Linked DNA regions of Homo sapiens: region 1 is linked to region 2. The links come from fine-mapping of genetic effects on gene expression. A gene starts in region 2. The other region holds a variant in brackets. All regions are shown on one strand. Distances are between the middles of the regions.

Evidence for each region. PIP is the estimated chance that this variant, and not a neighbour inherited with it, causes the effect.
Region 1: its variant is fine-mapped to the expression of PAK6 in adrenal gland (GTEx, PIP 0.98).

What each region holds. Positions count from the first base shown.
Region 1 is chr15:40,264,248-40,269,611 of GRCh38, forward strand. It overlaps BUB1B-PAK6 (BUB1B-PAK6 readthrough), which reads left to right. Exons shown (of 10, transcript NM_001128629.3): 3 at 534-742; 4 at 1,595-2,248. The coding sequence starts at 539. It overlaps PAK6 (p21 (RAC1) activated kinase 6), which reads left to right. Exons shown (of 11, transcript NM_001395430.1): 4 at 534-742; 5 at 1,595-2,248. The coding sequence starts at 539. Among named protein-coding and RNA genes, the nearest start is that of PAK6-AS1, 14 kb to the left of the region's middle. The variant G/A (reference allele first, on the strand shown) is at 2,296.
Region 2 is chr15:40,236,491-40,241,854 of GRCh38, forward strand. PAK6 (p21 (RAC1) activated kinase 6) reads left to right here and starts at 2,573. Exons shown (of 11, transcript NM_001395430.1): 1 at 2,573-3,312; 2 at 4,109-4,191. The region is part of intron 1 of BUB1B-PAK6 (BUB1B-PAK6 readthrough); the gene reads left to right. LOC107984763 (a long non-coding RNA gene) reads right to left here and starts at 3,211. Exons shown (of 3, transcript XR_001751506.2): 1 at 2,995-3,211.

The sequences.
Region 1 (5,364 bases), 28 kb after region 2:
TAACTTTAATATACTGTTGGATTCAATTCGATAGTTTTAAGATTTTCATAGTTACGTTCCTAAATGATATTGAGTCAAATTTTCCTTTTCTTGCACTCTCCTTATCTGGTTTTAAGAATCAAGGTCATACTCGTTTCATAAAACAAGCTTGCTAACTTTCCTCCCTCTTTCCCCATTTTTAAAATTCGTTGACAGACAGTGGAATGATACTTGTAATGGGCTTTGGATTTTATAAAAACACACCCCCAGAGTCTGCCTGCTCCATAGGGGACTTGGCACAGGCAAGAAGACACCTCTTTTCCTTGTTTATAGTCTGCACTGGCTTATTTATGGCACGTTTGTTGTTTCTGGGACTGTTCTGCTGGGAGCCAGCCATTTCCCTGAGGAAGCAGAGATGGAGGTGGAGGGAAGCCCTAGGCTTCTAGGGGAGCTGTGCTGGGGGAGGGGAGGGAGCCCTGAACCTGGTGCCCCAGGCCCTGCTGCAGCCACCCCTCTTTCCCGGGAGGGAGCTCAACCTTACTCTGCACTTACAGGCACCATGTTCCGCAAGAAAAAGAAGAAACGCCCTGAGATCTCAGCGCCACAGAACTTCCAGCACCGTGTCCACACCTCCTTCGACCCCAAAGAAGGCAAGTTTGTGGGCCTCCCCCCACAATGGCAGAACATCCTGGACACACTGCGGCGCCCCAAGCCCGTGGTGGACCCTTCGCGAATCACACGGGTGCAGCTCCAGCCCATGAAGGTAAGAGGGGCCGGCAGGGATGAGGTTCAGCCTCTCCCAGTACTCAGACAACCATGCCTGGCTAAACCTCAGAAAGGCCCCTGGAGGAACCACCTACTTCACAGCTATCAGTTAATCAGCTGTTTTAACTCCCTGCCTGTCAGCCTGCCATTCTCTCCCTGGGTAAGCCAGGGCGAAGGAGGCTGGGGAGACCCTCTCTGCAGGGTGGTGGGGTTGCCAGATTCAGCACATGAAAATGTGAGATGCTCAATTGCATTTGTATTTCAGATGACAACGAATAGTCTTTTAGGACGTGTCCCATTCAATATTTGGACCTGCAGCCCCATAGGGACTGAGGGCTCTCCCAGACCAGGAGAATTTTAGTTGTGAGGGTCACGACTAGTAGACCCAAGAGCCTGGTAGAAGGTGGGGTCAGGGGCCCTATCAGGGTTTGGAGGCTGCGAAGCCAGTGTGTGTGGAGGAGCCCCCGGCCTGGTGTCTCTTCCTCAGAGGGCTGGGCACATCTCTCCCAGCCACCCGTGGAGCTAGAGAATGGAGCCCCGCCCCCTGAGCTCCAGCTCCCTGGCCCAGCCGACCACACCCCTGGGCATGCTGGATGCAGCCCCATGGCACTCACCATCTGCTCTGCTGACGCTGGGCCTTCTCCCCGCATCCCTGCATCCAGCACAGGCGGGACCCACGGTGGGCCCTGATAAATTATGGAAAAATTAATGGGTGGATGACACAGCAGGGAAGGTCCTTAGGTGGTCCTCCCCAGGGCCCCCAGGGACATTCTCTGACCCTGATCTCCCAGCCACCCCTCCCTGCCACAATTGGGCAGCTCCCACACACTCTTTTCTCTTCCCCCTACAGACAGTGGTGCGGGGCAGCGCGATGCCTGTGGATGGCTACATCTCGGGGCTGCTCAACGACATCCAGAAGTTGTCAGTCATCAGCTCCAACACCCTGCGTGGCCGCAGCCCCACCAGCCGGCGGCGGGCACAGTCCCTGGGGCTGCTGGGGGATGAGCACTGGGCCACCGACCCAGACATGTACCTCCAGAGCCCCCAGTCTGAGCGCACTGACCCCCACGGCCTCTACCTCAGCTGCAACGGGGGCACACCAGCAGGCCACAAGCAGATGCCGTGGCCCGAGCCACAGAGCCCACGGGTCCTGCCCAATGGGCTGGCTGCAAAGGCACAGTCCCTGGGCCCCGCCGAGTTTCAGGGTGCCTCGCAGCGCTGTCTGCAGCTGGGTGCCTGCCTGCAGAGCTCCCCACCAGGAGCCTCGCCCCCCACGGGCACCAATAGGCATGGAATGAAGGCTGCCAAGCATGGCTCTGAGGAGGCCCGGCCACAGTCCTGCCTGGTGGGCTCAGCCACAGGCAGGCCAGGTGGGGAAGGCAGCCCTAGCCCTAAGACCCGGGAGAGCAGCCTGAAGCGCAGGCTATTCCGAAGCATGTTCCTGTCCACTGCTGCCACAGCCCCTCCAAGCAGCAGCAAGCCAGGCCCTCCACCACAGAGCAAGGTAAGTCAGGAGCCTGGCCTGCAGGTGTCCACTGGGGAGTGGGTGTA[G/A]GGACACAGGCCTTGCCTAGCCTTCCCCTTGGAGGACTGGCAAAGAGGCTCCCTGGACTGCTTCCGCCTAAGGCGGCAGAAATGTGCACGGTAACCTCTTCTCTAAGGAGGGTGGCTCGCCTCCTCCTTCCCTCCCTTCCTTTCCTTCTTTTCTCTGTGGCTGTTGTGTTGTTTCCCATTTCTGTCAGTATTTGTTCCCAAGTGTGTGGCCATAGGAAAAGCTGGATTTGCCTAGTCCAGGGGCAGCAGGAGGCCGACTTGTGGCATGTGTGACTGCTTCAGACGCACATTTTTCTTGTGAGAAAGGAAAGGGTGAAGGGAGCCCCCGTGGTGACATTTCTTGGCAGGCAGAGTGGAGCGCACCTTTTTGCTTCTTCCAGGCCCTCCAGCATCCTGTTGATAGTGACAGTAACCTCTTTTCCCATTTGGCAGAGGAGGAGACTGATAGAGAGAGGGTGAGTCACCCCCAGGCATGATGGAGAGTGAGTCAGAGAAGGAAGGTGGGGAGTGCTCTGGGGCTGCCTGTCCGGCCCGGGCCCTCTTGGCTCATGACTCTTGCGTATGAAGGCTTTACAAGCACAGCAGCCACTTGTTCTTTAGCTCCTTCCTGGGAGGGTCAAAGGCAGTCCTAAGAAACGGCTGCTGACAGTGGCATGGGTAATGGAGCCTCCCCTCCCTCCTGGGAGGGCTTTAAGACAAGCCTGGGTACTCCCCTGTCATCGGTGGGGTGAGTGTGGCCCAGCCTGCACAGGGTGTGGGTTTGGGGATGACCCGGACTACAACCTCTCTGGGTCACTGCCTGCCAGCTGAGGTACTCAGAGAAAGTTCTGGGCGGCCGCGCGTGGTGGCTCACGTCTGTAGTCCCAGCACTTTGGGAGGCCAAGGTGGATGGGTCACGAGGTCAGGAGATCGAGACCATCCTCGCTAACACGGTGAAACCCCGTCTCTACTAAAAATACAAAAAAAATTAGCCGGGCGCGGTGGCGGGCGCCTGTAGTCCAAGCTACTCAGGAGGCTGAGGCAGGAGAATGGCGTGAACCCGGGAGGCAGAGCTTGCCGTGAGCTGAGATCGCACCACTGCACTCCAGCCTGGGGGACAGACAGAGCGAGACTCCGTCTCAAAAAAAAAAGAGAAAGTTCTGAGCTTTGTGCACTCTAGTCCCCTACTAGGTTAAAGGACAGTGGGTTGGGATCCCCATGGGTTGTGGCTTGATGTATCTGTGAGAGGAACACGAGCATCTGTGAGCTGCAGGGTGTCTGGAAGGCTGTGCCCCTGGGGAGACTCAGCCAGAAAACCAACGTAAGATCAGGACAGTGCACCCTGCTGGGAAGGTGAGATTCGGAGCTTGACCTCCCTCTGTCTCTCAGGAGTCCTGCTGCGAGGCCTCAGGGATTTGGAGAAAGGGGTTGTCAACACTGGGCTGGGCACTCATTTGCATCTTTCTGGGCTCCTGCCAGCACCCCACAGCAGGGGGAGAGGCCTGTCCATCCCTGCACAATGTACTGAGTACTCACCATGGGCCACTGCTGCTGGGTATGCCGGGATGTCCCCCATACTTGTGGGAGCAGGCGGTAGTTATCTCGAGCTCAGCAACACCATACTTCCAAATCCAGGGGAGTGGTTTCCTTCTGGGCAACTCAGACACATCTTTCAAGATTTCTACTCTGAAGCCAAGCCTCTCAATGGCAAGCTGAGACCCCCCGAGCTGCTCCGGGCCGGGGCTTCTCAGCGTCCTCACTGCAGGCGCTCAGGTCAGTCCATCCTTTGTGGTGGGCTCTCCTTGCACTGTAGCAGCCTCCCTGGCCTCTACTCACTAGAAGTTGGTGGTACCCTCGGTTGGAATAACCAAAAATGCCTCCAGACACTGCCAAATGTCACTCGAGCACACCCATTAAGAACCACTGCCTTAAGCAAATTCAATAACAGATGGGGAGCATCAGCCTTCCTCCTCCTCCTCCACCACCACCTACCCCAGGAGTCCCCAGATCAAGCCAGCAGCCCTTGGCACTGGGGCTGACTCTGGACACTTGCAGCAGCTTCCATAACAGCAGTTAGGCCACAGAGGCCATGCAGTGTGCCAGGCATGGCTGCAGGAGGGTCTGAGTATAGACTCCAGGGCTCCTGTACCTAGCCCCAGGCAGTGAGGCCTGGAGTCACTCTAGCTAAAGAGATCAGGAAGACAGGGCGTGGGGGCACAGAGACCAAAGAGGCAAGACAGTTTTTTAGGAGCTTGCAGGGATTAGACATGTTCCACTTAGAGTCAGAAGGGCAAACATTGGTTAAGCACCTACCGTGTACTCCGATATATGTCAAGGATACATGGCACCAGTGGGATTGCAGCATGGGAGTCAGCAGCCACGGGCGTCCTGCGGGTTCCAGTGCCTACAGGACAACCAAACAACCCACAGGGTTATGAGGATTACATGAGATAGTACGTTGAAGGCACTTGTCAAAGTGGTAAGCCCTCAATAAATGGCTTTATTAGTAGTATTTGAGATGGCGTCTCCCTCTTTCGCCCAGGCTGGAGTGCAGTGGCACAATCTTGGCTCACTGCAACCTCCACCTCCTGGGTTCAAGTGATCCTCCCACCTTAGCCTCCCAAGTAGCTGGGATTACAGGCACGCTCCACCATACCCAACTAATTTTTGTATTTTTAGAAGAGATGGGGTTTCACCATGTTGCCCAGGCTGGTCTTGAACTCCTGACCTCAAGTGATCCACCTGCCTTGGCCTCCCAAAGTGCTGGGATTACAGGCACCTGAGCCACCATGCCAGGCCGGCTTTATTATTTTTAAAAATATTATGCCATGGCCTCTCCCCTTTAGGATACTTAAGGTATAGCCCCCTAAGCCCACAGCTGGGGAGCCATGGCTCAGGGCGGGAAATGAGGCATTGCTGTAAATGTATGCATGACTCTTCTAGTGGCTTTCTTCCCAAGAGGTCTATCACATGAGTAACTTCAGAATTAATCCAGAGCCTGTAACAATTAATTAATTCTGTTGTCGTGTCCCCCTTTCCCTTTCTTGTGTGGCCTCACAAGTTTCATCTGGTCCTTGCTTGTGATTACAT
Region 2 (5,364 bases):
CGGGGTTTCGCCATGTTGGCCAGGCTGGTCTCGAACTCCTGACGTCAGGTGATCCACCCACCTCGGCCTCCCAAAGTGCTGGGATTACAGGCGTGTGCCACTGCGTCTGGCCTATTATTAGTTTTAAAAACATACATTCCTTTATTTTTACTTTTGTATTGTTTAAATACAACAGTACATGTTCACTGAAACAATGCAAGAGTGTAAAAAGTCCAAAGTGAAAGACCCCTCTCACCACCACTCCTATTTCCAAGGATAACCACATTGACAGTTTGCGGTTTAAACATACAGATATAGAAATATCTTTAAATAAAAAAACTTATATGAGATTATGCCATCTCATTTTCAAGTTAACATTGATAAACCTGGTCTTTTTGCTCAACTATCGTGGTCATCCTTCCTCATACATACGTATGTACATGCATACCGGTACACACATAGCTGGTACATACATACCGACTGACAAAACTCATTCATTTTAAGGCTGCAGATACTTCATTGCATGGGGATGTACCATCCTGTATAGATCTGTCACCCAATTAATCTGCCCAATTGATGCACATTTTGGTGGCTTCAAATTCTTTGCAGTTACAAACAGTGCTACCATGAATATTCTTATACAAATATCTTCAGGCCGATGTGCAACTATTTCTTAACTTGGATTCCTAGAAGTGCATTTGCTGGATCAAGTACATACACATTTTGAAATTTTGGTCAAGACTGTAAAATTGCCCTCCAAGAAGACTGTACCAATTCACTCTCCCACCTGCCATTTTTTTTTCACTGTATAATGACAGGGAGTGGTATATCCCTTTTGTTTTAGTTTGCATTTCCTGGATCATTCCTTAGTGAGACAGAGCAGAAGTGGATTATTTATAAGTTTACACACAAAATTACATTGAGATACAAAAAGAAGAAAAATACAGAGTTCCTCTCCAAAAGGAACTGATAACCTAGTTAAAGGGAAAATGTTTCATATTGACCACAAATTGAACTTTTTTTTTCTTTTGAGACAGAGTCTCGCTCTGTCGCGCAGGCTGAAGTGCAGTGGCACAATCTTGGCTCACTGCAACCTCCGCCTCCCGGGTTCAAGCAATTCTCCTGCCTCAGCCTCCCAAGTAGCTGGGATTACAGGCATGTGCCACCACGCCCAGCTAATTTTTGTATTTTTAGTGGAATGAGGTTTCACCATGTTGGCCAGGCTGGTCTCAATCTCTTGACCTCATGGTCCACCCGCCTCAGCCTCTCAAAGTGCTGGGATTACAGGCGTGAGCCACTGTGCCTGGCCACAAATTGAAATTCTTATGTTTAATGCCATGACATCTAACACTGCGTTCAATCAAAATGTCTACGCATGCAGCTTGAGACCTTTGCACAGAAGGTGCCTAGGGTCATGATTTGGGAAGATTAATCTGCCATCAGTGGAGGGGTGGATAAAAACTAATGTTTATTGGGATCAAGATGAGCAGTCTCTGTGCCAGAAACTTTATTCCTTTAATTTCCACAGCCCTGTGAGGCAGGTGAAATCATCCCCATTTTATGGATGAGGAAATTGAAGTTCAATTGGTTCAATAACATGCCAAAGGTCACTCAACTGATGAACAGTGGAGCTGAGATGCGGAAGACTGAAGACTCACAGCCTGGACTTTTAACCAAACACCACATGGCTTCGCTACAGAAGAAAGTTAGAAAGTTTTCAAAAATAAAATGTAGAGCCAAGTGCCACCTTGGATATAAGGGACTGGGGGACGGGAAGAGGCAAGAACTCCCAGGCTTCCCTCTGGCTGTCAATAGCTAGTGGGTCCTGGCAGTGGGAGCTGGGCCATCAGAGGTGGCGCCTGAAGTGGGGCAGGCACAAAATGGGTTTTCGGGCAAGCATTTGCCCAGGTGATGGTCAAAGCCACAGAAAAAAGGTGTTTTGATGGAGTGGTGGCTGAGTGTGGGGAGAGATGAGCAGGGGACCAAGCCTGGAGCTTGGGCAGCCCACGATTGGACACTAGGAGAAGAAAAGAAGCCAGTGGAGGAGACACTGAGGCTAGGGATGGGGAGGGCACTGTGGAAGGCTGGGCTCCACCTGGCGCTCCGGGGAGCTGGCAGGGGGGCACATCAAGGAGCTCAAGCTGCCTCACCAGCAAATGCCTCTGTTTCTGACCAGGGGCAATGAAATAAAGGGACCCGGTTGAGTAACTGGTTTCTGGTCCCTGCCAGCCCAGGAAGCCAGCACCCACCCTGCCTTACATCCCATGTGCCACTCTCAGCCTTCGAAGCAAAACCAGCTGAGACCAGCACCTGCCAGATCTGAATGCGCAGCTCCAAGTTCTGGGGGGTGGGGGTGGGGGTGAGCCAAGGAGGTCTGGCTTCTCTAGGGCAAGGGTAGGAAGGACAGCAGGGAGGCTCACCCTGAGCCCGGCAGGCAGCCCTTCCTCCTCCTCCCCTTCAGCAAAGAAAGGCAGATAAAAACGTGTTTTTATAAATAGCTCCAGCCCCAGCTGATTTGTAAATTCAGTGGGTTTTTTGTGTCAATGACATCACCTTCCTCCCCATGGCAACCCCCGACGATATCAAAATTGCCAAGCAACGTTGGAGCAGCTCGGCGCCCCAAACGAGCAGGTCGATGCCTGAGGATTTAATGGAGAAATCCCAAAGTGAGCCGGGGCGCGCGGTGGAGGAGGGGCGCGCCGCAGCCGGGGCCGCTGGGCCCTGATGGGCGGGAGCGGGGTGGAGCGGCCTCGCCTGCCAGGCAGCCCTGGGCGCGGGGCTCGGCGGCCACACTCTGGAGACAGCCACGGTCCAGGCAGGTGGGGGAGGGCGCTGCTCCCGTCCTGATGTGCCAGGAGCCGCCAGCAGCCATCCAGGTGACTAAGCCGGCCCACTAGCACTGAGTCACCGCCCGCCTCGAGCTGTTCTTGCTTCTCCTTTGCATCTGATTATTTTGGGAGCTGGAAACTTGGAGCTGCACCTGAGTCCCGCCCCTTCTAGCTCTCCCCTCCCTACCTTGGGCTCCAGGAAGATGGGACTTGCTGTGAGTCTGCTGCCACCCCCTAAAGATATGGAAGACGCTGTGGGGGCCAGAAGTGCCCGGGGGGCTGTGGCAGCAGGCAGAGTGCAATAGCAGATATGGTGGTCAGGCTGCCTGTGTGTGTCCTCTGGAGGTGTTGGGACAGAAGGGCAGTCTTGTCCGAGCTGACTGGAGTCCTCCCGGGCTGGCTCTGAACTCATCTCCCACGGGGATGTTTCGGTAAAGGAGTGGCTTCTGGGGTCGGAGTGGCATTTGGAGAGCGAGGCTGGATTGGCTTAGGCTGGCCTGGGCAGGTAGGTGGCTCTGTGTTGGGTGTGGACCCACGTGTGTGTGAGTGCGAGAGTGTGTAAGCCAGTGTGTGTGCCGTCCCCCTGCTGGGGACAGCAGCTGGGTCCAGCAGAGAGCTGGCTGGGGGCTTGACAGGAGTTTATCCTAACTGATGCTGGGTGGGCGCAGGCCCTGAGATGGGCGTCAGGGAGAGGGGACGCCAGACACACGGCCTGAGCAGGGTGAGGAGCAGCTGCCAGCCCCGGCAGGCCCAGGCCCTGTCTGGGTGCACAGGACAGAGACACAGCAAGATGCCCAGGTAGGAAGCCGTCCGGAGGGGCTGGCCAGGGTGAGAGCCCATCACTGGGGGGCTGGACAGCCCATCAGCTGCCCCTTCATTCTGGCAGGCCTGGGTACCAAGGAAACAGCTTCCTACCAAGAACCATGTCACTCTCTTATGCAGGGCCAGTCAGCACCCATGTGCGTCTCTGCTGAGCTCACAGGGACACATTCAGTGAGAAGGGTGCTGGCCAGGGTACGGCTTCCCCATGATCAGGACCCAGCGGGTGCCACCCTCAAGCCCCTGGTCCCCACAGGGCATGCCCCAGTGTGTGTCAGGAGGAGGGGGGAGGTCCCTTCTCCCCCACACAGCTGGCAGCTTTGCGGGCACCAGTGAGTAAGCTGCCAGAGGGAGGGAGGCTGTGTGCCCACAGTGGCAGGACAATACCAACCAGGAGCCTTCAAGAGAAGAGGCTGGGTGAGAAAAGCACTGAGGTTTTCTTTTCCTTTTTTTTTTTTTTTTTTTTTCTATTTTGCCTGAAGGGAGTGCCGCTTCCTGGGCTAGAGACAAGCACCAGCCTGCAGTGGAGAACGCAGGACCCCGCTGCCCAGAAGGAGCAGCCACGGTAAGGTCCCCACTGCCGCTGCGTGCTCCGGATTCCTGGGCTAGGGACGGGGGTGCCAAGGTGTCCAGGCTGCCTCCCACCTGGGACAGGGAGGCTAACTCCACAGCTGTGGGTTCCTGGGTCAAGGGGCTCCACTCCCCACCCGGCCTGCCACCTTCTTTCCAGATTGATTGTGAAACAGTCCAATCCCAGCTGGTCTCTGGCTCCCTAGCTAGAGGGAGAGGTGCTTGTTTCTACTCTTCCTGCCCCAGCTGGGCCAAGCCAGTGCCACCGGGACACCCCTATCCAAGGCCCCTCTCACTTTACCACCTCTGGGACATTTCCCTTGTGTATTCATTCCACAAATATTTAGGGAGCACTGCTGGGTCCCAGGCTCCAAGTCACACCCTTTGGCTGGGTTTGACCTGGCACAGATTCTGACTCTGAAACTCAGCATCAGGGCAGGTTCAGGGAGCTGCCTGGCCAAGCACGGTCACTCCTCACAGGCCTTGGTCTCCCCACCCCTGCTGCAGGGTGGATGACCTGGTCAGCTTTGGGGACATCGGGCCCAGTGAGCTCGGGTTTATAAAGCACTGGGCCCCACCGGGAAGCAAGGCTAACGTCTTGTGGTCTCCAGTTATCCTTTCCCTGGCATTGTACACCAAGAGGTTTGTGCCGTTCTGCCTGGGGTCTTCCTGAGGCTGGTTCTGGTGGGAACTGGGCTGCAGGAGGAGAGGATGAGCTTAGGAGCCGTGTGGCCCCCAGGCCTGGTGGGCCTGGGACTCAGCCCCACGGGAGCTCATCTAGCTGGGGTTGAGGCCTTTGGGGCAAGCAAGGAGTCCCCTCTGCAGGCAGGCTTCCCTGGCGGTTGTCCTGGCCCAGGCTTGGAGGTGGCACCTGGGAGCCCTAGTGACAGAGCGCCTGGTCAGGGAAGGGTCGGCACCAGAGGCAAGCCCTTCTGGGAGCAGCTGATTTGGATGGAAGCTCTGTGCACCTGAGAGGGGGAGTGTGGGGACTGCACGGCCTCTCCAGTGCCCCGAGGACAAACTGATGCTTTGTGAGTGCTCTGGGCCCTCCCGGACTTGCCAGACACAGGGAGGGTGCAGTGGGTGGGGTCTCCAGCCAAGGAAAGCCCGCTCTGTGCACAACTCCTAAGGATGACCAAAAAGTCCCCTGCCCTGGAGGAGCACATGT